Linked DNA regions of Homo sapiens: region 1 is linked to region 2. The links come from fine-mapping of genetic effects on gene expression. A gene starts in region 2. The other region holds a variant in brackets. All regions are shown on one strand. Distances are from middle to middle.

The links.
Region 1: its variant is fine-mapped to the expression of MCM10 in visceral fat (GTEx, PIP above 0.99). The same link has a PIP of 0.9 or more in breast, subcutaneous fat, thyroid and tibial nerve.

What each region holds. Positions count from the first base shown.
Region 1 is chr10:13,181,762-13,197,274 of GRCh38, forward strand. It overlaps MCM10 (minichromosome maintenance 10 replication initiation factor), which reads left to right. Exons shown (of 20, transcript NM_018518.5): 8 at 1,172-1,339; 9 at 4,403-4,519; 10 at 7,120-7,319; 11 at 9,538-9,638; 12 at 10,494-10,604; 13 at 10,690-10,807; 14 at 13,280-13,508. Among named protein-coding and RNA genes, the nearest start is that of MCM10, 28 kb to the left of the region's middle. The variant A/G (reference allele first, on the strand shown) is at 7,076.
Region 2 is chr10:13,153,064-13,168,576 of GRCh38, forward strand. MCM10 (minichromosome maintenance 10 replication initiation factor) reads left to right here and starts at 8,495. Exons shown (of 20, transcript NM_018518.5): 1 at 8,495-8,543; 2 at 11,065-11,146. The coding sequence starts at 11,140. It also overlaps the pseudogene BTBD7P1 and the pseudogene RPL36AP36. RefSeq lists silencers at 8,244-8,557, 8,580-8,759.

The DNA.
Region 1 (15,513 bases), 29 kb after region 2:
CCTTTGATCAAATTCTTAGTTACTTCATAAGTGGCTGTAATGACATAATAATAATAGACACGAGAATTTATCTGAACTCTTCCAAGACAGGCACTGCACAAATCCCTGGAAGATGGATTCCAGCTCAGCGTCCGGGCAGTAGATTCCATGCTGTAACCCATAACCATCCCCAGCCCGGGATGCCTCTGTGAGATAGTGCAAGTCAAGATTATTCACAGTATTCTGGTTTTAAAAACAACCGTAAAAGTGGAGGTTTTTCACATTATAATCGGTCAGCATTTTGAGCTGTATTTCTTCAGATACTTAATCATACTTCTGAAATGTTAAGGTTAAACTCAACCAGTTTTCTTGAAATGATGCTTTTGTAAGCTAAGCAGAGATGTAATAGCCTAGAAAGGAAACTTCTTTTTTCATATTAATAATAGACTTAGGCTAGGCTTGGTGGCTCACGTCTGTAACCCTAACGCTTTGAGAGGATGGGGTGGGAGGATCACTTGAGCCCAGGAATTCATGACCAGTCTGGGCAACATAGTGAGACCTCATCTCTATGAAAAGAAAAAAAAAATTAGCTGGGGCTGGTAGCACATGCCTGTAGTCCCAGCTGCTTGGGAGGCTGAGGATGGAGGATTCTTTGAGCCCAGGAGTTGGAGTGAGCAACGGGACATGATTGCACCACTGCACTCCAACCTGGATGACAGAGCAAGACTCTGTCTCTAAAAATAATAATCATCATATAATTAACCAATGATATGGAATAGATTTACTCATTTACCTAATATTGATTCATATCAGTAAGTTATTAAATGGTACTGTCATACCTTCCACTGTCCTTTTAATGATGTGTGTGTGTGTCTCTGTGTCATTAGAAAGGCAGTGCTATCCCACTCCCTCTGCTTAGACCCGAGATAACTAGAGACTCTGCTAACAAGTTTGCCACTGGCTTGCTTTATTTCACTTTCATCTCTAAAATGAGAAGGGTAATAGAATGCAAAAGCCTAGAGAATGGGTTAAAGTTATCACACATGCTGATGATACATATTTGAATAACAACAAAAAAACTTGGATTTTATGGATTATAGGCATATAGTTTTCCATAGTAAAACTCTTGAATCATAAATGAGGACGGCATAACCTACAGTTCAAAATTATAAAAAATAACTATTTGTTCCAGGGAAAAACCTTCAGCATATGGAAACTGAATGATCTTCGTGACCTGACACAATGTGTGTCCTTGTTCTTATTTGGAGAAGTTCACAAAGCGCTCTGGAAGACGGAGCAGGGGACTGTCGTAGGGATCCTCAATGCCAACCCCATGAAGCCCAAGGATGGTTCAGAGGAGGTAAGAGCCTGTTTCTGGGATTTGATTGATGATTGTCTTTACAAGTTAACTGAGTTTTATCAAAGATGTTTGATGCAGCACACAGTGGCTCACACCTGTAATCCTAACACTTTGGGGAGGCCAAAGCGGGAGGATCACTTGAGCCCAGGAGTTCAAGACCAGCCTGGGCAACATAGTGAGAACCCCATCTCTACAAAAAATGTAAAAACTGGCTGTGAGTGGGGGCACACAACTGTAGTTCCATCTATTCAGGAGGCTGCGGTGGGAGGTTGAGGCTGTAGTGAGCCCTGATTGTGCCACTGCACTCCAACCTAGGTAACAAAGTAAGACCCCATCTCAAAAAAAAAGACAAGAAAAGAAAAAAGTTTGTATTAGTCTACCTCCAGAAAATAAGTCATGCTTTTATGTGATTGTGTCTCCGTGAATCTGGCTTTTCATTTTTTGTTCATTCATTACCCATCAGTATTCTGAATTTCCACCTATTCTAAAGTGTTTTGTAACAACTACTTTTATTCCATCTTTTCAAATTAGTTACAAAGTTCCTGGAGTTTTTGAACTATTGTACTCAGGTTTCCTTGGATTCATACCTTCTTTTTTTTTTTGAAAGTGAGTCTTGCTCTGTTGCCCGGGCTGGAGTACAGTCATGTGTTCTTGACTCATTGCAAACTCCGTCTCCTGGGCGTAAGTGATACTTCCACTTCTGCCTCCTGAGTAGCTGGAACTACAGGTGCATGCCACCATGCTCTGCTAATTTTTGTGGTTTTTTTGTGTGTATGTGATGGAGTTTCGCTCTTGTTGCCTAGGCTGGAGTGCAATGGCGTGATCTTGACTCACTTCAACCTATACCTCCCAGGTTCAAGTGGTTCTCCTGCCTCACCCTCAGCAGCTGGGATTACAGGCATGTGCCACCATGCCTAGCTAATTTTTTTTGCATTTTTATTAGAGACGAGTTTTACCATGTTGGCCAGGCTGGTTTTGAACTCCTGACCTCAGGTGATCCACCTGCCTCAGCCTCTTAAAGTGCTGGGATTACAGCCATGAGCCACCACGCCCAGCCTATTTTTGTGTTTTTTGTAGAGACAGGGTTTCACTATGTTGCCCAGGTTTGTCTCGAACCCCTGGGCTCAAGTGATCTACCCGCCTCGGCCTCCCAAAGTACTAGGATTACAAGTGTGAGCCACCGTGCCCAGCATGATTCCTTATATAAATTTTTATGGTGGCATCAAGAAAGCAGTGTTTTATAGTTGAGGGGATTTTGCTCCGTTGACTGTGACAACCATAGCTGCAGTTTAAAATCAAAGTGAATTTTCATCTTCTCAAATACTAGAGTTTTGGCACTACCTACTGCTTCTCTAGGAAATTGCAAATCTAGACACAGTGTGAATAGCAACTGGCAGTTTCTCTACTCTGACCCAGCATGGAGCTTTACTCTGTTGTAGTCAGATTATTATTTTCAAGAGAAGTGAGAAAAATGTTATCTCATTCCTTGCTTTCACCAGAGAATGGCAACAAATCTTCCTCTATTGGTTAGGAATGTGTTTGGCTGCAAGTAACAAACAAACTTAAGTATAGTTTCTTTTCAACAATAAACAGTGGGGCTTATTTTTCTTACATATTAAAAAAATTCAGATTTAAACACTATAGTGATTTAAGAGTGACATCTCTGTGAGTCTCAGCCTTTCTCTCCTGGTCACAAGATGCCTTTGAAACTCTAGCCATCACTGTGAATTGGCATACCGTGGAAGGGTGCCAGTTTCTTGGAGAGGAATACCATGCACTGTTTACCAGTCCTGTGGGAGGGCTCTAAACACCTTGCCAATTTCTACTATTTCCAGATCTGGTAGGTTCCCAGATCTGGCTGGAAGCTTTGTACAAACCCAGCTGCCAGTGGTTCAGCATAAACCAAGCTACCAGCAGCTTTGCACAAGCCTGCCTACAGGAGTATGCATCCGGGAGACAAAGCACACACAAATTGGGCAAAGCACCTTAGGCAGCGAGACTCCACAGAAGCCTAGGATCTGGGTTGAGCCAGTCCACCAAGACTCAGTCAAGGCACTCCAGGCAGGCAGAGTCCTGTCTGCTCATGGCTCTCTTCACCCTGCAGCGGAGGGATTATGAAAGCACCCTGATCTGGGTTTTATAACCTGGAGGCTACTTGGCTTATTGAGCTCAAGTGTTGTAAGAGATCTTGTCCTAGGAGGGGTGAGGACAAAGCCCGAGCTATTCAGGACAGTCCCTCTTGGTACAGTCTGTCCAAGAAGAGAATTGCAAACAAGAAGGGAGAGAGCTGAGTTCAGCAAGGCCCTTGAGGGACTTGTCTCCCTCCAGTCATCTCCATTCAAGGCAAGAAGTGAAGAGGAAGGGGGAGCCAGCCTCCTAACTCATTTTGTCAGGAAAGCAGAAGCTTCCCTACCAACTCCTGTTTATGTCTGAGCATCTAGAACTTATCACATAACCAATGCTAGCTCTAAGGAGTGCTGGGAGAACAGGGAACAGGATCTATGACCTGAGGCTGAGAAGTCAGCCAGCCTAGAGAAAATCAGGATTCCAATCGCAAAGATGAAGGAAAGGATGGAAAATGGGAAAAGAACTGAAGGTGCCTTCTGCATCCCTGTTCCTAAAACGGTTATAGAGCCCTGGCTTCAAATTCCTTTAGACCACTAAAACCTCTCTCCTTTTTGAGACGGCCTCACTCTGTTGCCCAGGCTGGAGTGCAGTGGTGTGATCACAGCTCATTTCAGCCTGGACTTCCCAAGCTCTAGTGATCCTCCCACTTCAGCCCCCCAAGTAACTGGGACTACATGCACGCACTACCATGCCTGGCTAATTTTTGTGGTTTTTTGTAGAGACAGGGTTTTGCCACATTGCCTAGGCTAGTCTCAAACTCTTGGCCTCAAGCGATCCACCTGCCTCGGCCTCCCAGAGTGCTAGGATTATAGGTGTGAGCCACTGCGCCTGGCAATAACCTTCTTAAATCAGCACCAACCATTCTTTTTTCTATTCCTGCTAATAAAAGGCCATAATTTTGTCCGCCTTTAACTCCTGCCCCACCTTTTCTTACAGGTGTGTTTATCTATCGATCATCCTCAGAAGGTCTTAATTATGGGTGAAGCTCTTGACCTGGGAACCTGTAAAGCCAAGAAGAAGAATGGAGAGCCGTGCACGCAGACTGTGAATTTGGTTGGTTTCAGCCTTGTTAGGATGGTTTCTGCTAAAGAAAAGAACAGTTAGGAATAAACTGTTGGTGCTTTAGCTGTGATGACCAGTTTGGAACTGAGTTTCCCACTTAAAGGAAGAGTCAAAATGAGAAAATTTAATGTGTGGTTAATAACTGCCAGTTTAAAAAAGTGAGGGCAGGGGAAAGGTGAGGGGATTTAACCTCTTAGGAAAGTGATCTTTTATCTGACCAAGAAGTTTAAGACAGAATTTTTGTTTGCCTTTAATTCTTGTAATTCCACAGAGCAAACATGATGAAATACAATGAAAATTGTATTTTAGCCTATATTTTAACTCCATTATACCTTTTCTTAGGGCTTTTTAAAAAATAATAGCTTCATTTAGGTATAATTCACATACCATGCAATTCACCCTTTTAAAGTAAGCAATTCAGGCCAGGTGTGGTGGCTCACTCTTGTAATCTCAGCACTTCGGGAGGTCGAGGCGGACAGATCATCTGAGATCAGGAGTTTGAGACTAGCCTGGCCACCATGGTGAAACCCCATCTCTACTAAAAATACAAAAATTAGGCGGTCATGGTGGTGGGCGCCTGTAGTTCCAGCTACTCAGGAGGCTGAGGCCAGAGAATCACTTGAACCTGGAAGGCAGAGGTTTCAGTGAGCTGAGATCGCACTATTATACTCCAGCCTGGGCGATAGAGTGAGATTCTGTCTCCAAAAAAGAATATAAATAAATAAAGTCAACAATTCAGTAATTTCTAGTACATTCACAGAGCTGTGCAACCATCACCACTGTGTAATTTCAGAACCCTTTCATTGCCCCAGAAAGAAACCCAGTACCCACTAGCAATCACTCCCCAGTCTCCTCTCCCCCAGCCCCTGGTAAGCACTAACCTACTTTCTGTCTCTATGGATTTGCCTCTTCTAGACATTTCATATAATGGAATCACAATATGTGGCCTTTTCTGTCTGGCTTCTTTTGCTTAGCATAATTTTTCTCACAATTGATCCGTGCTGTAGCATTTATCAACACTTTATTCCTTTTTGTGGGTAAATAATATTCCATTGTATGGATATACCATACGTTGTTTATTCTTTCATCAGTTGATACACGCTTGGGTTGTTGCCACATTTAGCTATTATGAATAATGCTGCTAAAACACTCACATACAAGTTTTTATGTGGATGTATGTTTTCCACTCCCTTGGGCATATACCTGGGAGTGGGATTGCTGGGTCAACATGGTAACTGTCCAGAGTTTGGAGGAACTGCCAGACTGGTTTCCCAAGTGGCCCACCAGCAATGGATGAACTTTCCAGTTTCTCCCTGTCCTCATCAGCACCTGTTACTCTATTTCTTTTTTGTTATAGCCATTGTAGTAGGTGTGAAGAGGTACTTCTTAGAGTTCTTTGAAAGGATTAAATGACAGGTTTTGGTTTAATCTTTTTTTATTCCCTTATTCCTTCCTATTAGATTAATTGGTGGACAGGAAAGAATAAGGTGGGAGACGGTTGGAAAATGAGGTTTCAGAGTGAAGTACCCAACAGATCTCCCCGTGAGAATTAGATTCTTAAAAATCCATTGTCTGGATGGGGCGGTGGCTCACACTTGTAATCCCTGCACTTTGGGTGGCCGAAGTGGGCCGATCACTTGAGGCCAGGAGTTCAAGACCAGCCTGGCCAACATGGTAAAACCCCGTCTCCAGTAAAAATACAAAAATTAGCTGGGCGTGGTTGTGCACACCTGTAATCCCAGCTACTTGGGAGGCTGAGGCAGAAGAATCACTTGAACCTAGGAGTTGGAGGTTGCAGTGGGCCAGGATCACGCCACTGCACTCCAGCCTGGGTGACAGAGCGAGACTCTGTCTCCAAAAAAAAATCCATTGTCGCCGTAACTACTGTTCACCCAGCAGAACAATGCTGCACCATCTCTCTTTGTTTCTTTCACTGAAAGGATAGCACTTGTCCGAGGATCAACCAGAGAAACAGCTAGAAAAACCTCGCTGGGAGCTGATTTTGTTTTTAAATTATTTTTTATTGGGTCAAAATTCACAATATACAGTTAATCATTTTAAAATACATATATAATTCAGTGATATTTAGTTGTGTAACCACCAGCTCCCTGGTTTCAGAATTCCATCACCCTGTAAAAACAATGGCACCATAAAGTCATCACTCCCATCCCCACTCCCTCCGTCTCCTGGTGACGTCTAATCTGCTTTCTGTCTCTATGGATTTGCCTCTTCTATAAAAACTTCCTTTTATATTAAATAACATAGGTCCTATATTAAATAACATAGGACCTTGTGTGTCTGACTTCTTTCACCTAACTTGTTTTCAAGGTTCATCCTAAAAGCTGATTTCCTTTGTAGAAAGAGGGCAAGGGGTATTTCACCAGAACAGTGCTTTCAGGGGACTCGAAGGGAAGAACTTCTTCCCCTCAGGGACTGAGCAGCCCTTCCACATTGGGAACGGTCGTGGAGGTCAGCAGGGAGGACTCTGCATGCGTCATGTTCCGGGAAGTGGGGAGAAGGAACTGTGTCTGCTCACTGCTGTTTCCC[A/G]GCCTGTTGCCCTCATCCTGATGCCACTGCTCTGCCTTTTGCAGCGTGACTGTGAGTACTGTCAGTACCATGTCCAGGCTCAGTACAAGAAGCTCAGCGCAAAGCGTGCGGATCTGCAGTCCACCTTCTCTGGAGGACGAATTCCAAAGAAGTTTGCCCGCAGAGGCACCAGCCTCAAAGAACGGCTGTGCCAAGATGGCTTTTACTACGGAGGGGTTTCTTCTGCCTCGTATGCAGCTTCAATGTAAGACGTTCTCGGGCTTCTTTTGGGCAGAGGATTTTGCTTATCAAAGACTAAACCTACTGGTTGTACCTTCCTGTAACCGTCATAGGATACTTGTACAGGTTTTATCTTTCATAACTCACTACTTGAAACAAGTTGGTTAAAGACCGCTTTTATTCCCAGGTAGAGAGAAAAACTTTCAGGAGAGAGAGAGATTGACTTATGTTGTGTTGGACTTTAAGAGAGCCCACTCTTCCTCTTCAACTTTTTTTTTTTTTTTTGAGACGGAGTCTTACTCTATCACCCAGGCTGGAGTGCAGTGGTGCAGTCTCAGCTCACTGCAACCTCCAAGTCCTGGGTTTAGGTGATTCTTCTGCCTCAGCCTCCTGAGTAGCTGGGACTACAGGCGCGTGCCACCACGCCCAGCTAATTTTTGCATTTTTGGTACAGACAGGGTTTCACCATGATGGCCAGGCTGGTCTCGAAATCCTGACCTCAGGTGATCTGCCTGCCTCGGCCTCCCAAAGTGCTGGGATTACAGGCATGAGCCACTGCTCCCAGCCCCTCTTTGACTTCTAATGTGAATAGTGCACCTTCATCAGGGCCATTAAAAATGTGTTAATTACAGTGTTAACACCCTTTTAATTATTTCTCGTATGACTATATGAGTGAGGCTACAGACCTCATGGAACCCAAATTTCATTCAGTGAGTGAATATACTATGAAGCTTCACATGGGGAGTGGGGCGATGCTGGGCAGGCATCCATGGCCCCTTGCCTGGGGGTTCAGAGTCACTACAGCCCCTGACGCTGTAATCCAGGGGTGTCCAATCTTTTGGCTTCCCTGGGCCCCTTTGGAAGAATTGTCTTGGACTACACATAAAATATATTAATGATAGCCTATAAGCTTAAAAAAAGAAAGAAAAGAAAAGAAAAATCTCTTAATGTTTTAAGAAAGTTTATGAATTTGTGTTGGGCCGCATTCAAAGCCATCCTGGGCTGCATGTGGCCCGCAGGCTATGGTTTGGATAAGCTTGTAATCAGTGGCCTCGTCACTACATTATATAAAGCATATCTGAGGACTTGGCACGAGGCAGCTACAGTTGGTCCAAGAATAAAACATAGATTTTTGTTCCCAATCCAGCAGGAATGGGGCAAGAGGACTCATTTCCTGTTTCTTTTTTAACAGTAAGCATGTTTTTGAGATTTAAAATTATTTCTGAATTTTTCCAATCTGCTAAAACAATACATGTATATTAGTCTTTTAAAAGAACATACAATCCAACCAATGGAGAAAATAAAAACCAACTATAATCCTATCACCTGAAAAACTGTTAGTTCTAGGCCAGGCACAGTGGCTTACACCTGTAATCCCAGCACTTCGGGAGGCCAAGGCAGGAGGATTGCTTAAGCCCAGGAATTTGAGACCCGCCTGAGCGACATGGCAAAACCCCATCTCTACAAAATGCAAAAAAAATTAGCTGGGCATGGTGGCACATGCCTGTAGTCCCAGCTGTTTGGGAGGCTGAGATGGGAGAATTGCTTGAGCCTGGGGAAGTTGAGGCTGCAGTGAGTCAGGATTGCTCCACTGTACTCCAGGCTGGACAACAGAGTGAGATCTTGTCTCAAAAAAAAAACCCCAAACTGTTAGTTCCTTGGTATATATACTCCTAGGTGTTGTGTTTCTTCATATGTGTACATTTTTAGTAATATAAAATGAGATCATATTGTTCCTATTCTTTGTATCCACTTTTTTTCCAGTGTAAAATAATTAATGTTTTTCTCATGTATTTTCAGTGGCTACATAGTGTTCTTTTGCATACTCTGCCTTAATTCATTTAAACAATTCCCTGTGGGTGAACGTTAATGGTGTTTCCAATGTATGACATTATAAACAAAGCTGCCATTAATATCCTAAATTTTTGCATAATCCTTAATTATTTTAAGATAAATATCCAGACTGCTGGATCAAAGCATTGGCTTTTTTTTTATTTCTTTTGCCAAATTTCCTTCCAGAATGGCCTCAAGTGGATTTGTAGGCTGCCTCTAGCTTTTCCTCTGTGACACAGTGCATAAACCAGTTATGCTATTGGGCCGTAACATTAAGAAAGCCTACTTAGATGGTGTTTTGAGAAACTTTGACGGTGTGTGTAATAAATGATGATATCTATGCCTTCTTTACCTCATCAGAGCATTGAGGCTTTAGTGATTCTCCTTTTGGGGGTGACTTGTCATTTCAGTGCAGCAGCTGTGGCTCCTAAGAAGAAGATTCAAACCACTCTGAGTAATCTGGTTGTTAAGGGCACAAACTTGATCATCCAGGAAACACGGCAAAAACTCGGTAACTTTGTTTTTCCATAAGAAATTTCTTTCTCCAGTTTAATTATGCAGCCTTAGGGATAAAAGACTACACATTGGGTACAGGGTACACTGCTCCGGTGATGGGTACACCAAAATCTCAGAAATCACCACTAAGAACTTATTCATGCACAAAAATAAATAAATAAGCAAGCAAGCAAGCAAGCAAGCAAGCAGTCTTTAGGGTTGAAAATGGATACAGCTCATACTCTTAAGTAATAAGAATCCAGTCATCACCTGTACTTAGTGAGTGGCGCGGTCTAACCTAAAGGAATCAAGCCAGGTTTGCAGGACCTTAAGGAAAAAAACAGCATATTGATTTTAGCTATGTCTTACCTTAGTATGCTTTTTAAAATTTCTTGGTGTATCTGGGTCCAACTCTTTACATCCAGCATTAGAATCAGCAGTATTATCTTCCTGGCCAAGCTTATTGGTTATCTTTTGTTAAAATGGGTCTTGGTCATAAAAACAAAAAAATTTTTAATAAAATAAAAACAAATAAAAACAAGTCTTGATCAGAGAATGCAGCCCCCATCCTGGGCTTGTGGTCAGGGACCCTTATCCTTAGCGGATATTCCAGAAACAGGGTATGGAATGACCCCCAGATTTAAGGGCTTAATATTCTAATCATTACTAGAAATAAAATATAGTCGAGATACCCTGCCATCCTATGAGTCTGATGATAGAGGTTAAGGATTCTTTTCTTTCCTCTTGGGATTCCGTCTTCTTCGTTTACGTATGACTAAAATTACAAGTGCAGAGTTTAGAAAGTGGTATGTCATATGACCTCAAACCATCTGAATGTGAATCCTCTAAAGCTGGTGTTGACCTGGCACAGGAATACCCCAGAAGAGCCTGTCTTGCTCTGAGGAGTTCAAGGAACTGATGGACCTGCCGACGTGTGGAGCCAGGAACTTAAAACAACATTTAGCCAAAGCCACAGCTTCAGGTACCATCAGCTGCATGGCCACACGTGTGTCCCTGTGTTCCCTCAGCCTCCCAGGGCACCCCCTCAGTCTGGGCTTCTGTTTCAGGGATTATGGGGAGCCCAAAACCAGCCATCAAGTCCATCTCGGCCTCAGCACTCTTGAAGCAACAGAAGCAGCGGATGTTGGAGATGAGGAGAAGGAAATCAGAAGAAATACAGAAGCGGTAAGAGGAGCAGATTTAATATTCCCCGCTTGGGTCATCCATCTCAGGCGTCCTCAGAACGTCTTCATCGATTTCCAGAATGTGACTTCAGGTTTCGGTTGGCTGCGTTTTAACTCTGAAAGTTTAAAATAGTTTTCCCATAACCTGAATAGCATTTAAGGCTGTATTATTTCTTACACTGGTGACTCCCAACACCAAATGGTACAGGTTAGAGTCGTTATCACCATGGAAAAGGGAAAGGAGTGAAGTGTATGTAAAGAGGGTTTTTGTGAAGGGGGAGAGCGTAGGTTCACATGCTGGCTGTCATTTTCTCTCTCTCTCTCTTTTTTTTTTCTGAGACGGGTTTTCACTCTGTCACCCCAGCTGAAGTGCAATGCTGCAGTGTCGGCTCACTGCAACCTCCATGTCCCAGGCTCAAATGATCCTCCTGCCTTGGCCTCCCAAGTAGTTGGGACTACAGGCATGTGCCACTATGCTTGGCTAATTTTTGTATTTTTTTATAGAGACTGGGTTTTGCCATATTGCCCAAGCTGGTCTCAAATTCCTGGACGCAAGCCTGGATTTGCCTGGCTGCCATTTCTGGGTTTTGCCGCAATTCAGTTTTTTATGACAGGCAGAGCCAGTGAGTAGAATACAGTTCTTTGGATAAAGGACAAAACTGAAGCACTAAAAATGGAGAGTCATTTTAGAGGCAAAAGCAAGTGGAAATGTGTTACTTGGCTTCAGCCAATAATTAAAAAAAAAAAAAATCAAGTGGAAATGCATAGGGTAGGTGGACAAATGAATGATTCCTGAACTCAGGTCACCTGAATACTAATGAGAGCTGCGGTTCACAGGCACTTCATACGTACTCCATAAACACAGTATCTGAGCCTCCGGAGGCTTCTCAGCCTTGTTTTACTAATAGTGTGCCTGGAGATCAGAGAGCTAGTTTATGGTGGGGCCGAGTTTTGGGCTCACACATGTTGTGCTCTGGTGCTGAACCTTTTGCCATCCCGAATCTGGGCTGCTGAAAGGCAACCACATCCATGAAAGGGAGTCAATGATAAGACAAGAGGAAATTCTTTGGGAAAGTAAGAGAATGGGTTTGGTCTCAGGCAGATTAGTTTGAAGTGCCGGTGGGATATCTATAGAGCTATTCATCTTGAGCCTACAGATGACATAAATTATATACGTGGACACAGAAATATGTATGGAGTTGGGGGCCTCGTGGGAAATAGAGAATGCCCATCAGCTTGAAGGCATTGCGTAATGAAAATTTTCAGAATTTTGTTGGCCAAGGAAACCTTATCTTTGCGTAGGATTTGATAGGCAGTTTGCAAACACAGCCTAGAGCTTGCAAGAGTGGCTGTGCGGTTGGGAAGAGTACTGCTCTGGGATGGCCTGGCTCTAATCCTGAGTCTGGCCCTTGTGAGTAATGTGATCCTAGGCCTCAGTTTCTTCATCGATCAAATGAGAAGTTTGGACTAGATGATTTCTGGGGTTTGTTATTTGTTTTTAAATATCTCTTATGAGGCTGGCTTGGTGGCTTATGTCTGTAATCCTAGCACTTTGGGAGGCCGAGGCAGGCAGATCGCCTGAGCCCAGGAGTTTGAGACCAACCTGAGCAAAATGGCGAAATCCTGTCTCTACAAACAGTACAAAGATTAGCTGGGCATGGTGGTGCACACTGTGGACCCAGCTACTCGGGAGGCTGAGGTGGGAGGATCACCTGAGCCTGGGAGGCAGAGGTGGCAGCGAGCCGCAATCGTGCCAACGCACTCTAGTCTGGGTGACAAAGCAAGACCCTGTCTCCAAAAACAAAAGTAAAATAGCTCTTAAAACTATTTTTTGCCAGGCATGATAGCTCACGCCTATAATCCCAACACTTGGGAGGCTGAGGCACGAGAATCACTTGAACCTGGGAGGCAGAGGTTGCAGTGAGCCAAGATCATGCCACTGCACTCCAGCCTGGGTGACACAGCGAGACTCTGTCTCAAAAAAATCAAAAAAAAGAAAGGGGATGTAAAATAATCGCTGCAAGTTACAGTGTTTTTCATTAATGACTTCCAAATGTCTCACATGTATTGTCTCTTCCCAGTAGCATAAACAAAGATGCAGGGAGGTGCAATGAGTTCCTACAGGCCCTAGAGCTGACGGTAGGGGTGGGAATACAGTTCACACCGCGTCTTCAGCTGTGTTCCTTGTGGATGACATCCACTGGACAGCCAATTGATAAAAACAGTTATCAGTTCTAAAGTGTTAGGACAATTACAGCTTATTCAAAGAAAACTCAATTAAGGAGGAGTTAGTAAAGCTAGTATTGTTCTTATCGTGTGCAAATTTGAATTACCAGCCTAGAAGGGGACATTATTTTGCTAACAACTAGCTCCCAACTGGTGGCCTGCCTGCCGCCTCCCAGTCCACTTTGAGTTCTAGAGTTTTTATTTTCGTAAACCCTGTTTGCGTATTTTGACTGTATGTTCTTTAAAGATTTCTGCAGAGCTCAAGTGAAGTTGAGAGCCCAGCTGTGCCATCTTCATCAAGACAGCCCCCTGCTCAGCCTCCACGGACAGGATCCGAGTTCCCCAGGCTGGAGGGAGCCCCGGCCACAATGACGCCCAAGCTGGGGCGAGGTGTCTTGGAAGGAGATGATGTTCTCTTTTATGATGAGTCACCACCACCAAGACCAAAACTGAGTGCTTTAGCAGAAGCCAAAAAGGTAACTGGCATCTCTTCTCTTTAGCACTTGAGTTTGCATTCTGTAGAGCAGAGCTGGAGGAAAGACAGACACCTAATAGCTCTTTATTGATCGTGATCATTAGAGTCAGTGTAATTTGAAAACATGGTAGTGTCAACATAATACTAAAAGAAAGTTAGATCTGTTATCTCAACACTTTTTCTTGTCAGGCTACAAGAGGTAGCCTAGAGGAAGATAGTGTTTTATAACCAGAGGCATTGACAGTAGGAAAACAATGCTTGGAATTGTTGAGGTGAGACTGTAAAATGGTGGTTTAAGGAATCCTTTTTTTACGTTTATTTATTTATTTATTTATTTATTTATTTATTTATTTATTTTTTGAGAAGGAGTCTCACTCTGTCACCCAGACTGGAGTGCAGTGGCGCAATCTCGGCTCACTGCAACCTCCTCCTCCCAGATTCAAGCGATTGTCCTGCTTCAGCCTCCCGAGTACCTGGGACTACAGGCGCCTACCACCACGCCCGGCTAATTTTTAGTAGAGACATGGTTTCACCATGTTGGCCAGGCTGGTCTCGAACTCCTGACCTCAAATGATCTGTCCACCTCGGCCTCCCAAAGTACTAGGATTATAGGTGTGAGCCACCATGCCTGGCGGTTTTATTTTTTATTTGTTGAGACAGACTATCCCCCTGTCACCCATGCTAGAGTGCAGTGGTGCAATTATGGTTCACTGCAGCCTCAACCTCCCAGGATCGATTCATCCACCTGCCTCAGCCTCCCAAGTAGTAGCTGGGACTGCAGGCACATGCCACCACGCCTTGGCTAATTTTTGTATTTTTTGTAGAGATGGGGGCCTCCCTTTGCTGCCCAAGCTGGTCTTGCACTCCTGGACTCAAGCAGTCCCACCTCAGCCTCCCAAAGTGCTGGGACTACAGGCATGAGCCACTGTGCCTAACCAAGAATCCTTTAAAAGAAATCTTACACAAAAGTCCAGTCCCATGACAGGTGAAAGCTGAGTTGCTGCGGCTGAAGTAGGGGTAGGGCACCCAGAGCCCCACCTGCCCACTTCCTGAGTGCCCCAATCGAGCCTCTCTCTTCCCTTAAGTTAGCAGCTGCAGCCAAATGAAGGGCAAAGCTTGCTGTATGCCAAAACCTTACCTATAATAATAACAACAGGAATACCTACAATAACCATGGCACATGTCCATATTACTCAGTACTTGTGATATGTGTGTGCCATGTATTTACTATGTTTATTTATTTATTTATATATATATTTTTTGAGATGGAGTCTCGCTCTGTCACCCAGGCTGGAATACAGTAGTCCGATCTCGCCTCACTGCATCCTCTGCCTCCTGGGTTCAATCAATTCTCTTGCCTCAGCCTCCCGAATTGCTGGGATTACAGGTGCCCACCACCATGCCTGACTAATTTTTGTATTTTTAGAAGAGACAGGGTTTCACCATGTTGGCCAGGCTGGTTTCGAACTCCTGACCTCAAGTGATCCACCTGCCTCAGCCTCCCAAAGTGCTGGGATTACAGGCATGAGCCACTGCGCCCGGCCAGGAATGTATTTGCTATGTAAAGATTCATACTTTGCAGATATTATCTTATTTCATCCATACAACCATGACCTTCAAAGGTAGGTCAATGCTATATCATCATTTCCTTCTCTTTTTTTGTGTGTTTGTTTTGAGACAGGGTCTCACTCTGTCTCCCAGGCTGGTGTACAGTGGTGCAATCACAGCTCACTGAAACCTCCATCTCCCTGGGCTCAGGTGATCCTCCCATCTCAGTCCCCTGAGTAGCTGGGACTACAGGCATGCACTACCATGCCCAGCTAATTTTGTACCATGCCCAGATGAAGTCTCACTGTGTTGCTCAGGCTGGTTTTAAACTCCCGAGCTCAAGAAATCCACCTGCTTCAGCCTCCCAAAGTGCTGGGTTTACAATGAGCTACCATGCCAAGCCCCATTTCCATTTTATACTTGAAAAATTAAGTAATTTTCCTTGGGTTACAAGCTAG
Region 2 (15,513 bases):
GCACCATCCAGCATGGAAGATGTGAAGTCAGACATAAACGGGCCTAGGAGAGATGGTGGCAGTGGGGTGTGTTGCAGAAACCAGGCTATTACTCCCAGTGGGCCTGGCTCTGAATAGCATTGCCTCCTGCTGGGCCTAATGATGGAATCATTGTTTTCACGATCTGGTGCCTTAGCTAAGGAAACACACTCAAAGATACTCTGCAATGTCTACTTGGAGAACTCAACTACGTTCTCTTTTTTTTTGAGATGGAATTTCGCTTTTATTGCCCAAGCTGGAGTGCAATGGCACGGTCTCAGTTCCCAGGTTCAAGTGATTCTCCTGCCTCAGCCTCCCAAGTAGCTGGGACTACAGGCGCATACCACCACGCCCAGCTAATTTTTTGTATTTTTAGTAGAAATGGGGTTTCACCATGTTAGCCAGACTGGACTTGAACTCCTGACCTCAAGCGATCTGCCCGCCTCGGCCTGTCAAAGTGCTGGGATTACAGGCGTGAGCCACTGCACCGGCCTCAGCAATGTTCTCTAAACCCACTCCCCAGACCTACATTTGAAACCCAGATCCCCCTGGCTTCAGTCACAAACCTGAAGGAGGAAATCTCCACACCACAGCCTGGGACTGAACTCATCATCCCCGTCTGATCCACAGTAAGCTGCTCTTTCAGACTCCTCATCTATTTCCATGGTTCTGCCAGTCTCCTGGGCATTGCCAACCTGCCCACTGTCCTCTCCTTTTCCTACCCAAGGTAACTTTCCTTTGGTCAGTTACCAAAGCAGATAGGCTTTCCCCAATACATTTTCCATTTGTCTCTTCCTTTCTCTGCCTCCAGTCTGTTGTGTTTTCAGTTCCTGAGCACCTGCCTTTGTTAGCTTAATCTCCCTAAACAGTGCCCGATGGAGCAATGAGAACATAAATTAACACACATTTAATGCTTACAGGTGCCAGGCACACTATTGCATATTTCCAAATTTTTCTCATCTAATCCTCATGATGGCCTATGAAATAACTATTACTGTCCCCATTAGGCAGATGAATAAGTGGAGCCAAAGACAAAAACCACATGATTATCTCAATACATGCAGAAAAGGCCTTCGACAAAATTCAACAGCCCTTCATGCTAAAAACTCTCAATAAACTAGGTATTGATGGGACGTATCTCAAAATAATAAGTTATTTATGACAAACCCACAGCCAGTATCATACTGAATGGGCAAAAACTGGAAGCATTCCCATTGAAAACTGGCATAAGACAGGGATGCCCTCTCTCACTACTCCTATTCAAAATAGTGTTGGAAGTTCTGGCCAGGGCAATCAGTCAGGAGAAAGAAATAAAGGGTATTCAATTAGGAAAAGAGGAAGTCAAATTGTCCCTGTTTGCAAATGACATGATTGTATATCTAGAAAACCCATCGTCTCAGCCCAAAATCTCCTCAAGCTGATAAGCAACTTCAGCAAAGTCTCAGGATACAAAATCAATGTACAAAAATCACAAGCATTCTTATACACCAATAACAGACAAACAGAGAGCCAAATCACGAGTGAACTCCCATTCACAATTGCTTCAAAGAGAATAAAATACCTAGGAATCCAACTTACAAGGGATGCGAAGGACCTCTTCAAAGAGAACTACAAACCACTGCTCAATGAAATAAAAGAGGATACAAACAAATGGAAGAACATTCCATGCTCATGGGTACGAAGAATCAATATCGTGAAAATGGCCATACTGCTCAAGGTAATTTATAGATTCAATGCCATCCCCATCAAGCTACCAATGACTTTCTTCACAGAATTGGAAAAAACTACTGTAAAGTTCATATGGAACCAAAAAAGAGCCCGCATCACCAAGTCAATCCTAAGCCAAAAGAACAAAGCTGGAGGCATCACGCTACCTGATTTCAAACTATACTACAAGGCTACAGTAACCAAAACAGCCTGATACTGGTACCAAAACAGAGATATAGACCAATGGAACAGAACAGAGCCCTCAGAAATAATGCCGCGTATCTACAACTATCTGATCTTTGACAAACCTGACAAAAGCAAGCAATGGGGAAAGGATTCCCTATTTAATAAATGGTGCTGGGAAAACTGGCTAGCCATATGTAGAAAGCTGAAACTGGATCCCTTCCTTACACCTTATACAAAAATTAATTCAAGATGGATTAAAGACTTACATGTTAGACCTAAAACCATAAAAACCCTAGAAGAAAACCTAGGCAATACCATTCAGGACACAGGCATGGGCAAGGACTTCATGTCTAAAACACCAAAAGCAATGGCAACAAAAGCCAAAATTGACAAATGGGATCTAATTAAACTAAAGAGCTTCTGCACAGCAAAAGAAACTACCATCAGAGTGAACAGGCAACCTACAGAATGGGAGAAAATTTTTGCAACCTACTCATCTGACAAAGGGCTAATATCCAGAATCTACAATGAACTCAAACAAATTTACAAGAAAAAAACAAACAACCCCATCAAAAAGTGGGCAAAGGATATGAACAGACACTTCTCAAAAGAAGACATTTATGCAGCCAAAAAACACATGAAAAAATGCTCATCATCACTGGCCATCAGAGAAATGCAAATCAAAACCACAATGAGATACCATCTCACACCAGTTAGAATGGCAATCATTAAAAAGTCATGAAACAACAGGTGTTGGAGAGGATGTGGAGAAATAGGAACACTTTTACACTGTTGGTGGGACTGTAAACTAGTTCAACCATTGTGGAAGTCAGTGTGGCGATTCCTCAGGGATCTAGAATTAGAAATACCATTTGACCCAGCCATCCCATTACTGGGTATATACCTGAAGGATTATAAATCATGCTGCTATAAAGACACATGTACACGTATGTTTATAGCGGCACTATTCACAATAGCAAAGACTTGGAACCAACCTAAATGTCCAACAACGATAGTCTGGATTAAGAAAATGTGGCACATATACACCATGGAATACTATGCAGCCATAAAAAATGATGAGATCATGTCCTTTGTAGGGACATGGATGAAATTGGAAACCATCATTCTCAGCAAACTATCCCAAGGACAAAAAACCAAACACCACATGTTCTCACTCATAGGTGGGAATTGAACAATGAGAACACATGGACACAGGAAGGGGAGCATCACACACCAGGAATGTTGTGGGGTTGGGGGAGGGGGGACGGGGGAGGGATAGCATTAGGAGATATACCTAATGCTAAATGACGAGTTAATGGGTGCAGCACACCAACATGGCACATGTGTACATATGTAACAAACCTGCACGTTGTGCACATGTACCCTAAAACTTAAAGTATAATAATAATAAAATAAAAAAGATATATAGATATATATAAATTTATCTATCTATATATAGATATAGATAGAGATATATATAGAGATAGATATATAAAATATTTTATAGTATTGAGTGCTTGATTTTCATAGTAAAGAACCACATTAATACTGATGCTCAATCTGTCTCAGATGTCATAACTGAAGGTTCAAAAAAACTGACCCTGTAACATCCCAAACACTGAAATCATAGACTATGCTAGTTGTATTTTCAGTTTGGAAGATAAATACATAATTCTAGAAATCAAAATTTAAAATCAGAACTTCATACCTTGTGCAAGCATGTTAAATTCCAAGAACGGTGCTGTGTGGTAAAGTTCCATGGCTTTTCCTGCCCTGGTCATGTTTGGCTTCCCTGCGACGAGAGCCTGAACTTCACTGAGACTCCCCACAGAGGGGCTACAGTGCCAAACAGAGAGGTCCACCGCGTCGGTATACATACAGTGTAATATCACTTTTGCATATTTTTGTGGTATAATGGACTCATCTAATATAATTCTTGTGGGAGTCCTCAAAGTTCCATCTGTGATTTCTTCAACAGTTGGTATTCTCCTTTGTAATAAATTTTGAAAAAATGGGGACCGTGCAGAAATAACAGCCTTGTGGGCTTTGAGCTCTTCATCTAAACAGTTCTGATGTCCACCAAAAGCTTCAACCAGTTCAGAGTCTGAAGAAAAGCTAAGGACGACATCGTAATAACACATGTAATCAAAGAGTCCACGCATATCTACATCAAGGGAATTCTTCACTAAGCTGAACAAGGATAACGACATTTTGAAACCCTGAGTCTTCCATTCCAAACTCTCCTGTATAAAGATAGTATAACAAAGCAGAAAACATGGGCATATCAATACCAGCTGTATTGATGTCCATTATTATCTCTGCCCCATACTCAGGTGAGGAAGAAAGCATTTAAAAAATGGACACCTTGCTGCCAAAATGGCACGATGAACAGGATAACAAGTTTCTTGAAATATGAAATCTGTATCAGTACGATACTTGTACTCATAAAGATCAGCCATATCTTTCTGCAATGTCCGGGCTTCCGGTCTAGCCAAACTGGCTTGTAGGGAAAGCTTCTTTAATGCTGACCTTCCCTCATATTCCTCCGCTAATGCATTGACATCTCTAATATCCCACCCAGAGAGGAGTTCTCGCATCTGCTTGGCATGATCGGCAGACCTATCAGATTTTCGAGGCTTAATTAAGTTCTTTTTGAAGGTAGCAGGGCCAGAGGTCTTTTTTTTTTTTTTTTTTTTTTTTTTTTTTTGAGACAGTCTGGCTTTGTCGCCCAGGCTGGAGTGCAGTGGCTCGATCTCGGCTCACTGCAAGCTCTGCCTCCCAGGTTCCCGCCATTCTCCTGCCTCAGCCTCCCGAGTAGCTGGGACTACAGGCGCCCGCCACCACGCCCGGCTAATTTTTTGTATTTTTTAGTAGAGACAGGGTTTCACCATATTAGCCAGGATGGTCTCGATCTCCTGACGTCGTGATCCGCCCGTCTCGGCCTCCCAAAGTGCTGGGATTACAGGCGTGAGCCACCGTGCCCGGCCTCTTTTTTTTGTCTTGTGGTTTCTCATGGCCATGGTCAAGGCTATACAATTTTGATTCACAACCATAGCCTTGCTGAGAATAGGATGACGTCCCTATAAAAGTCTGTTGGGCCTGTGAATTTCCCCCTACCTTCGCGGAACATGGATGAGGATAATGAGATGCATTAGCACCCATTTTCTTCAGTCATTCAGGCATTCCGTCTGCGGGTTCTTCAGAGTATAATCCTAGAGGCCATTAGGAACCTTCAACCCTGGATCCAGCAGCCTCTTTCCATCTATTTCTATGAGAACAGGGCCATTAGACCTTACTTTAGTGCATACTATTGAAGTATGAAAGGCTGTGGGCAGCCAGACACACGGACAGTGCATTCTGTAAGAACCACACAGCAAGCATCCTCAAGTGTTTACTATACAGTCTGCCCTTCGTATTCCGTAGGTTCCTCATCCACAGTTCAATCGACCTGGAGGCTCCTCCCGCCGCCGCTGCTGCTGCTGCCGCAGGGACCTCGGCCGTCGCCCCCGCCGCCTCCGCCACCAGCACCGCGGCAGGCACCGGCGCCAGCACACCGCCGCCATCCTCCTCCCACCGCCGCCGCCGCCCTCTCCTCTCCTGTCAGTGGCTCAGGCTCCGGGACTGCTCCAGTTTTCCCTCGCCGCCATTTTGATTCCTAGAGGGAGCAGGAAGGGCTCGGCTTGGACTTTTTGTGTTTTTTTTTGTTTTTTGTTTTTTTGAGGCGGAGTTTTGCTCTTGTTGCCTAGGCTGGAGTGCAGTGGCCGATCTCGGCCCACTGCAACCTCCGTCTTCCGGGTTCAAGCGATTCTACTGCCTCAGCCTCCCGCGTAGCTGGGATTACAAGCATGCGCCAATACTTCCGGTTCATTTTTGCATTTTTTTTAGTAGAGATGAGGTTTCACCATGTTGGCCAGACTGGTCTCGAACTCCTGACCTCAGGTGATCTGCCAGCTTCGGCCTCCCAAAGTCCTGGGATTACAGACATGAGCCACCGTGCCCGGCCCACTTTTAATACATTAAAGGGGTCTGTGATAAACATCCTCCTACCGCCCAAAAAAGGTTAAGGACCACTGCAATATGGGCTGTTTGCTTTAGATTTCATTTTAGATAGATGTTGATAACTGTCAGAGCTGTTCTTTTTTGGCCTTCGTTTGTATTCTAAGGAGAGTCCAGGCCTCTCCTTAGAACCCCAGATCTGGAGATCAAGCTGGCTACCGTGCCTTTCTTAATCAGCATCTCTCATACATCTCATTCTGAAATAGAAAACTAAATCTATCTTCTCCCCTAAACCTGTTCCGTTCTTCCTATGTCTCCTACTTCAGTGCACAACCTCAAAAACGACCCTATTGTATAAATCAGAAACCTAACAGTCATCCTAAACCTGTCTCCCCATCCCCTCTCTGCTTCCTTCTCGCTAATATCTCCACATTCAATGGATGTTTTAAAAATATAAACTCAAGATTTTATTGTCTTCATAATAAAAGAAAACATGACACTTAGAACTGGATCACTTGGCCGTTTCTCTTCTTACCTCCTCCCAGTTCAAAATGCTAGCATATTTTAATAGCCAGCACTCTCTTAGAGCTGCAGCTGGGCTCAACGCACTCAAGCCTTGGCACAATTTTCTGTAGTTTTAGCCCTTTCCTGGAAAATCGGCTTAATTTGCCCACGATAGCCACTCTGCTTCCTGTCATAACGCCGCTTTCCCTGGGCATACAGAGAATCCTTCTCCTTCGTGTACAGTGTCACTTTGTGGGGTTGGTGCTTGCCACACTTCTTATAGAAAGTCTGGCGGGTTTTAGGAAACTTCGTAATGTTTGTGTGAGCGCTATCGGCACGGAAAAGCCACATTCAATGGATTTTAAAAAATCTATTTGCCTAATTGTTTCTCAAAATCACCTCCACTTCTTTTCTCAAAGTCACCACTATACTAATTCCAATAAAAAGTGCTTGATTCTTCACTTAAGGAAGGTTTGCGGGCTTAGGTTGGTTCTGTTTCTGACTCCTTGCCCGGAACTGGATGCAAAGAGGACCTGGAAAGTGAAGGTGAAGAAAAGAACTTCAGAGTACTGATCAGAATTAGTCAAGGAATTTCTGCATAATGGCTAAGAATAAATCTATGACGAATCTTTTTTTTTTAATAACTAGATGTAGTGATGCATTTATTTATTTATTTATTTATTTATTTATTTATTTATTTAGACAGAGTCTGGCTCTGTCGCCAGGCTGGAGTGCAGTGGCGAGATCTCGGCTCATCACTGCAATCGCCACCTCCCAGGTTCAAGCGATTCTCCGCCTCAGCCTCCCAAGTAGCTGGGATTACAGACGCGCACCACTACGCCCAGCTAATTTTTGTGTTGTGTGTGTTTTTAGTAGAGATGGGGTTTCACCATGTTGGCCAGGCTGGTCTCGAACTCCTAACCTCGTGATCCACCCACCTCGGCCTCCCAAAGTGCTGGGATTACAGGGGTGAGCCACCGTGCCCGGCCTTAGTGCCGTATGTTTAAAAGTACGCATTTAAACATACTTTTTCAATTTGATTACTAGAGTTCCTCCATTACTATGAATTTTTAACACTAGCAGCTCTCAGAAATGGTTGTATTCCTATTCCTGAGCCAATATAGGTTTAAGTAATAGGGCTGAGCTCATAAATGGAGCAGTAATATTCCATTAGGACACAGAAAAAAGTCAACGTAGATGGCATCAGGACTGTTTATCTTCAGTCTTCCTAAAGTCGATTTTAATTGTTCTGAAAATGAAAGTACGTAGTGGATAGAGATAGGATCTTATACCAAAGGGATTATTAGTGGGGGAACTGCAGTGCCTGAACAGTGTCTGCAAGGAGGAAAAGGGGGGAAAGACTTAAAGTGGCCATTTGGTCCATCAAAGTCTCTTCTGCTATCAATCCCTTGAAATTATGTAAAAGCTAAATGTTATTCTGCATTTAGAAACTATGTTCTTAGTATTATGTACAAACACTATTTTTTAGAATGTAAATACATAAAGAGGCCTGAATTTTACTGAAAAAAAAATCTGTGAAAGATATGGTCTGCTGATAAGTTCTCTTCAGCCCTGACGCCCCTTAGAAGTCCCAAAATCTATGGAACAGGAATTACTCGGGAAATGGTGGTTTCAGTGTAAAAGATGTCATCTACCCTTTCCCTCACTGCACAGATGGTGAAGGGGAAACTCAGAGAGATAAGTCACTTCCCCAAGGTCAGACAGGGTAAAAGTGGACCGGATCTGTTTGGTCCTGAGCCCAAACATTTCGAATGGACATAAGGCTGACAAAGGAACAGTCGGTCCCAGAGCGTCAGGAGTTGAGGTGGGATGGGACCGCAGGGAAAATACTGGGTGGGATGACTTAAACTTCCCGGCACCAGGGGGCGCCAGACACTCTATTTTACCTAAAGGAGACTGGCTTCTACCGACAGGAAGGTCCCTTGCCCCCAACAAAGAGGGCGTCCAATGACGTAAACCAATCCGATTGCTCTGTGCCAGGGCCGGGATTCGCTGGCGTAGCCAGTCAGTGCTGCCCCACAGCCGCGTGCGTCTGACGTCAAGGCAGGGGCGGGATCCGGTTGGAATTTTGGCGGGTTCAGCTGTGAACGAAGAAGGCGTCCCGGCATCGGGTGAGGAGCGCGGGCCCCGGGCGTGCGTGTGACCCTCGGGCGGCGGGGCCGGGGCCGCCTCGCACGTCTCTGCGCGGGTTGCAAGGGGTCCGAGGCTAGAGGCGCGGGGTCCCGGGAGCTCGGGTGGGCGCGATCTGGATTTGGCGGCAGCTTGGGACCGCTCGGAGCTGGCATGGCCGGGCCGGGGGCTGGGAGTTGCTGGCCGTCTACTAAGGAATCGGGTTCTTCCTTTTAAACGCAGCCTTTTAAGTGCTTGCCAAGTGCCTGCCGCCTGGGCTTTCTTTTATTCATTCATTCATTCATTCATTCATTGGTTTCTCGTATTCATGATTTGCCAATGATTATTGAATGCGGACGGTGTGCATGGCTCGGATCACATTTCCGCTGCCTTCACAGCGCTTACAGTTTAAAGGCACGAGCAGGTAGTAAACAAATGCACGACAGTGGACGACTCAGGGTGGTCCAGAAAGTCTCAGAAAGATGAGTAAGTGGAGACCGAAGGGCGAGAAGGACCTGGGGGGAGCTTTCTTCGACAGAGCCTGAGACCTCAAAGCAGCTTAGTGTGTTCCAGAAGGTGGAAGCGGGCTGGCCCGGCTGGAGCATCGTTATGGGTGTCGGGGTGGGTAGAATTGGACGTGGTGGATTGTGGAAAATGTGAGGGAGTAGAAAGCTTGGAAAGAGAGAGAGAATATGAATCATTGCCTCGCAGGCTTTGTAGATTTTTTCTAAGGGCAATGGAAAATCATTAAAGAATTTCAATGAAGGGACCCCCATGATCTGATTTATGTTCCTAAAGGTTACTAAGGAAAGGGAAGATTACCGTGGCTGTCGTATGCAGAACAGATTGCACGGGGACAAAGAGACCAACATAGAAAGCTAACACAGTCATTGGGTTAAAGGTTGACGGTGGCTTGGCCTAGGGTTCTGGCAGTGAAGTTGGAGAGAAGTGGCAGATTTGAGCAGTGTTTTGGAGATGGGACCACAGTACTTGTCAGTGGCCGTGGATTTGAGGGCGAGGGAGGGTGCACAGTTTCATTTTGGGGGAAGGCAAGGCCGGTTACAGACTTGAACGAGACAGTTTGCTCCTAACGCTCAGGAAGCTTACTGTCCAATAGGTTCCCCAGTAGATAGCACAGTGTGTGGCACATGAGGGATCCGTGGAAATGTTGGTTGAATGAATTTTTAAAAAGCGGCCAGGCGCGGTGGCTCACGCCTGTAATCCCAGCGCTTTGGGAGGCCAAGGCGGACGGATCACCAGGTCAGGAGATCGAGACCATCCTGGCTAATACGGTGAAACCCCATCTCTACTAAAAATACAAAAAATTAGCCGGGCGTGGTGGCGGGCGCCTGTAGTCCCAGCTACTCGGGAGGCTGAGGCAGGAGAATGGCGTGAACCCGGGAGGCGGAGCTTGCAGTGAGCCAAGATCGCCCCATTGCACTCCAGCCTGGGTGACAGAGACTCCGTCTCAAAAAAAAAAAAAAGCACCTTTGGGAGTCCAAGGCTGATGGATCACTTGACATCAGGAGTTCAAGACCAGCCTGGGCAACATGGCGAAACCCTGTCTCTACAAAAAACACAAAAATTAGCCGGGTGTGGTAGTGCACGTTTGTAATCCCAGCTACTTGGGAGGCTGGGGCAGGAGAATCACTGGAGCCTGGGAGGCGGAGGTTGTAGTGAGCCAATAGCACCACTGCACTCCAGCCCCAGCGACAGAGCGAGATCCTGTCTAAAAAAAGAAAAGAAAGTACCATAATCACTGTAATTAGTTCCTTGACATTGAACTTGCCAAAGAGCACATGTAAGTTAAATAAGAGCCTAGAAAAATGTATACTTTCTTACTTGCAGTTTAAAAAATAACCTTAAATGAAAAGAGAAGTGCACAAAGTGATACAACTTTGTCTTAATTAGCTACGCTGTTTCTCTGTGCTTTGCTGACTAGTATTGAATCAAAATCCTGATTGTCACTAAGGCTCCACCTAAGTAGAATCATACAGTAAGCTGTCGTGGATAACGCAGATGTCAGGTGTATTACAGTGAATAAAATGAAAGAATAGCCTAATGTAGATCGACCCCAATAATTTGTGTGTGTGTGTGTGTAATTTTTAAAAAAGACAAGGTCTTGCTATGTGACCAGGCTGGTCTCAAACTTCTGGCCTCAAGTGATGCGCCCACCTTAGCTTCCCAAAGTGCTGGTATTACAGGCGTTGAGCCACTGTACCTAGCCAACCCCAATAGTTCTTCCTCATAATTTATCTCATCCACGTAATCTAGTGTGATTTACAAACTGCTCTGCAGCTCAATAACTTTCTGTAACCTTAAACACAAGTAAAAGTGAGCTGCTACATCCAAGGAAGGAGATGGCATTGGCGGTGTGGAGAGAGGAGGTGAGAAATGGTCAGATTCTGGATGAATTCTGAGGTTAGAGCCCATAGGAGTGGTAGGATTCTGGGTTTGTTGGATGTGTGTTGTGAGAGAAAGAGAAGAATTGAAAGTGACATTTCTAATATTGCTTTCACACAGCCAAGATTCTACATTGCTCATCTGGGCATCTGAGCCTCCTTCGAAGTTTCCTGTCACAACTGTCCTCTTGACAGCATGGATGGTAAGACCTGGCAGTTTTCTGTTACTCTGTTTCAAGGAAAACTAACCTTTTGTCCATGGACTTGTTATTTATTCTACCTGTAAAATGGTGAAAATGCTCCCCAGCCCTCAGGTATTGTCTTAGTGGTTCTGAAGCAATCTCACATCTCACAGAGGTCACTGAATGTTACTTGCTTTTATCAGGGGAGATTTCTTCTGGCAACAGAGATTGTCTTTCATAATTACAATAGCTGGTAGGTGTACAGTGGGCCAGGCACTGCTCCAAGATCCTTGTGGAAATTAACTGATTCAGTCCTCAGGCAAACGTATTTTATAGGCAGAAAAACAGGGATGTTTAGTAACTTGTCACAGTTCAAGCTGGCATAGCAGGGCTTTGAACCAGGCAGTCTGACTTCAGAGTTTACATTTGATAATGAAATCTGCTGAAGCGATATTAGTCTAGCTCTGACTTAAGTTTTTATTAATATCATCCTTTCTAATTTTGTTCATTTTGCAAGGATGTGTACAAAATGTTTACCTAGAAAAGAGATGTTGCACTAATTAGCGATCACCTAAAATGATTGTGCTGGGCTGGACGCAGTGGCTCACGCCTGTGATCTCAACACTTTGGGAGGCCGGGGTGGGAGGATTGCTTGAGCCCAAGAGTTCAAGACCAGCCTGGGCAATAGAGTGAGACCTCATTTCTATTTTTAAAAAATTAAAATGATTGTGCTGGTTGTGAAGAGATCTAGTTGCATAATTGAACTCATAATCTGAAACTGGGTTTTTTTAAAAAATTCAAACATATTACACTTTGCCCTTTAAAACAAAACTTGAAATTCCTCACACTGTGATGCACAGTGGACCCCCGTTGTCCCTGAGAGATGTGTTTCCACACTCCCAGCAGATGCCTGAAACCCAGGATGGTACCAAACCCTAGGCATGCTGTGTTTTTTCCTGTACATACATACGTGTGATAAAGTATAATTTATGAATTAGGCACAGTGAGAGATGAACAACAATAATAAAATGGAACAATTATGACAATATACTGTAATAAAAGTTATGTGAATGTGGTCTCTCTCTAAAGTATCTATTGCACTCTCAAAATATCCATTGTACTGTCCTCAACCACAGTGACCATGGAAAATCAAAACCACAGAAAATAAACCCTCAGATAAGGGGTTATTCCTTATGTGAAACTCATTGCCTGATGCTATCATGGTAGTTTCCTGTTTCTTAAAATTGGCAAATTGCCTACAGGGCAGGTTATATAATACAAAGCATCACTTTTTGCTATCAGATTGACATGAAAATAAGAGGTGAATGGATACCTGTTCTCTAAGAAATCATAGTATCTATCTGGAAACAGTATAGGTCAAGAAAGAAGAAATCATAATGTTTAGGCTGGGTGCGGTGGCTCATGCCTGTAATCCCAGCACTTTGGGAGGCCAAGGTGGGTGGATCACCTGAGGTCAGGAGTTCGAGGCCAGCCCGGCTAACATAGTGAAACCCCATTTCTACTAAAACTACAAAAATTAACCTGGTGTGGTGGCATGTGACTGTAATCCCAGCTACTCAGGAGGCTGAGGCTGGAGGATCACTTGAATCTGGGAGGCAGAGGTTGCATTGCATCGAGATCCCACTACTGCACCTCCAGCCTGGGTGACAGAGCAAGACTCCATCTGAAAAAAAAAAAAAAAAAGAGGAAAAAGAAATCATAATATTTAGTAAGAAAATCTCATTTGATTGGCATGGGTTCACAATTTGGCCGGTGTAGAGGAAATCGGAGACTGTATGGTACTTGGGATATACTGTTGAACAATGTTCCTGCTTATATTTTAGTGGAGGGAGAAAGATAACAAAACAATAAACGGGTAGTTAGTAGATGGGAGACACTGCTATGTCTTTGTATGCTGACAGGAGTGCTTCAGAGGAGAGGGAGAAACTGGGGATTCAGGAGCCAGAGAGGTGGTAATTGTAGAATGAAGTCTTTGAGAAGCTGAGAAGTGGGACCCAATGTAAGAATGTAAGTGGAAGAATTGGCTGTGAATAGCACTAGATACTTAGTCCCAGGAGGGAAAGCAGAGAAGATACGTTCAGAGTTGGGAGTGAAGGATGAGGAAGTCTGATTACATCTATTTTTTCTGTAAAATATAAGCCAAGGGCTGGGCGCTGTGGCTCACGCCTGTAATCCCAGCACGTTGAAAGGCCAAGGCAGGTGGATCACCTGAGGTCAGGAGTTCGAGACCAGCCTGACCAACATGGAGAAACCCCATCTCTACTGAAAATACAAAATTAGCTGGGCGTGGTGGCACATGCCTGTAATCCCAGCTACTCGGGAGGCTGAGGCAGGAGAATCACTTGAACCTGGGAGGTGAAGGTTGCAGTGAGCCGAGATCGTGCCATTGCACTCCAGCCTGGGCAACAAGAGCAAAACTCTGTCTCAAAAAAAAAAAAAAATACATACATACATATATATATATATATATATATATATATCATCAGCTAAGAGTAAAGAGTGGGGAGTGGGCATAGGAGGTTTGAGGAGAGACAGTGTGAAGTGGTCAGAGCCTGGGAAAGCGAATGAATTGAGGAAGTGTGGGAATCTTTAAGCAGTGCTGAATGCTTGTTTGTTATGGGTGTGCAAAAATTTAAAGTTAGACTGAGGCAGGGTCTTGTTGATCATACCTGTAGTCCCAGCACTTTAGGAAGCCAAGGCAGGAGCATCGCTTGAGGCCAGGAGTTCAAGACGAGACTGGGCAACATGGCAAGACCCCATTTCTACAAAAAAATATTTAATAAGCTGGGCATGGTGGTGTGCACCTCTAGTCCCTGCTGCTTGGGAGGCTAAGGCAAGAGGATCGCTTGAGCCCAGGAGTTTGAGGCTATAGTGAGCTAAGATTGCAACACTGCACTCCAGCCTGTGTGACCCTGTCTTGAAAAATAAATAAATAAATAAACAAACAAAAAAGACCAGTCAGCATGGTAGCGAGTCTTTCTCCAGGACCATTCACCAGCCAGGGAGCTGAGTCTTTAGAAGGCAGTGAGTGATGATGGTGTTGAACATGGATCCACAGGGAGGGCATTAGGGGCAGGGGGTGATGGACAGGAAACACATTGTAGGTAGGCTGATGGGTTAGACATGTGGATGAAGCTGAAGAGCTGCTGGATGTGAATACTAGAGTGAGCGGGCTGAAAGGATGGGAGGTTGGATCACAGAGGGACGTTCAGAGGTCAGTTGTGCTTTGCTGTGATGAGTTGGAGTTACTATGGGAGTGGGTAGCTAAGATGGGGAGTGGATGAGAAACCCAGCGACCAAGATGTTGGCTGGATCATCCTTGCGGAGGTTGAAGTGCCCCAGGAGGGTGATAACAGTAGAGATGGAGGGGAGGACCGGGGGGGGCATGCATGATACACATATGATGATCAGCACATGACAGTGCCATGAGGGGTTCTTGATGCCAGCGTCTGGTGTCTTGAACTTCAGAGAGCTGTGATCTGGAAAAAGACTGAATCATTCCAAAGTGACAGTGATAAAGAAGACATCAGGAACCTGAAGTTGATCAACAAGTATTTGTTGCATGCCTAATACGTGCCGAACACTATTCTAGACATTGCCATGTGAGGTGTGAACAATTAAATGCTTTCCATTCAAGAGGCTTCCAGGGGTAGCCAGATTTCTGTTGTAAGAGCCACTGGGGATCCGAGAAACGTGCTGATAGTAGATTTCACATCCCAGGGGTTTGAGAACAAAGAGGCTGGGAGATTGAGTCAGCGTAATACAGAGAAGACATGATTTTTGGTGGTGACTGAGGTAAACGGGGTTGTGAGGCACCATGGGATTAGCCCTCGTTCTCTTGTGAAGGGTTCAAAGTGAATAGTATGGGGTCCCCAGGCAGCATTTTCCACCTGTGGCCCCCAGTGGTGTGAGCCAGAGCCTCTTCCCGGGGTGTGCCCTCTTTGGCAGACGGGAACAAGAGATGGTGGAGGCCTCTTTGCTTCCTTGCAGGCATGTGACATTCTCAGAGCACAGGGGGCTGCCTGGCCTCTTCTCTCTTGCACTGTGCAGCCTTGGAGTCTTTGTGGACTAAGCAACTCAAGCTAATCCTTATACAACCTCTGACTGAGCATTAGGCCCCATCATCAGATTCTAGGCCTGAAGTTTGGCTACTGGCTTTTTCCTTCTGGTAAGGGAGTGTAGAGTGGTGGAAAGGATATTGGTTTGCTGATCTAGAGATTCCTTATTAACCCAGCTCCTGAACTGATCTGTTTCTCCATGTGATCCTGAACAAGCCCCTCACCCTCTCATACTCTAGCCCCTGAATTTCAGACAAGGAGAGTAGGTCAGATATCCTTAATATTTTTCCATTGAATACCTCTGATTTT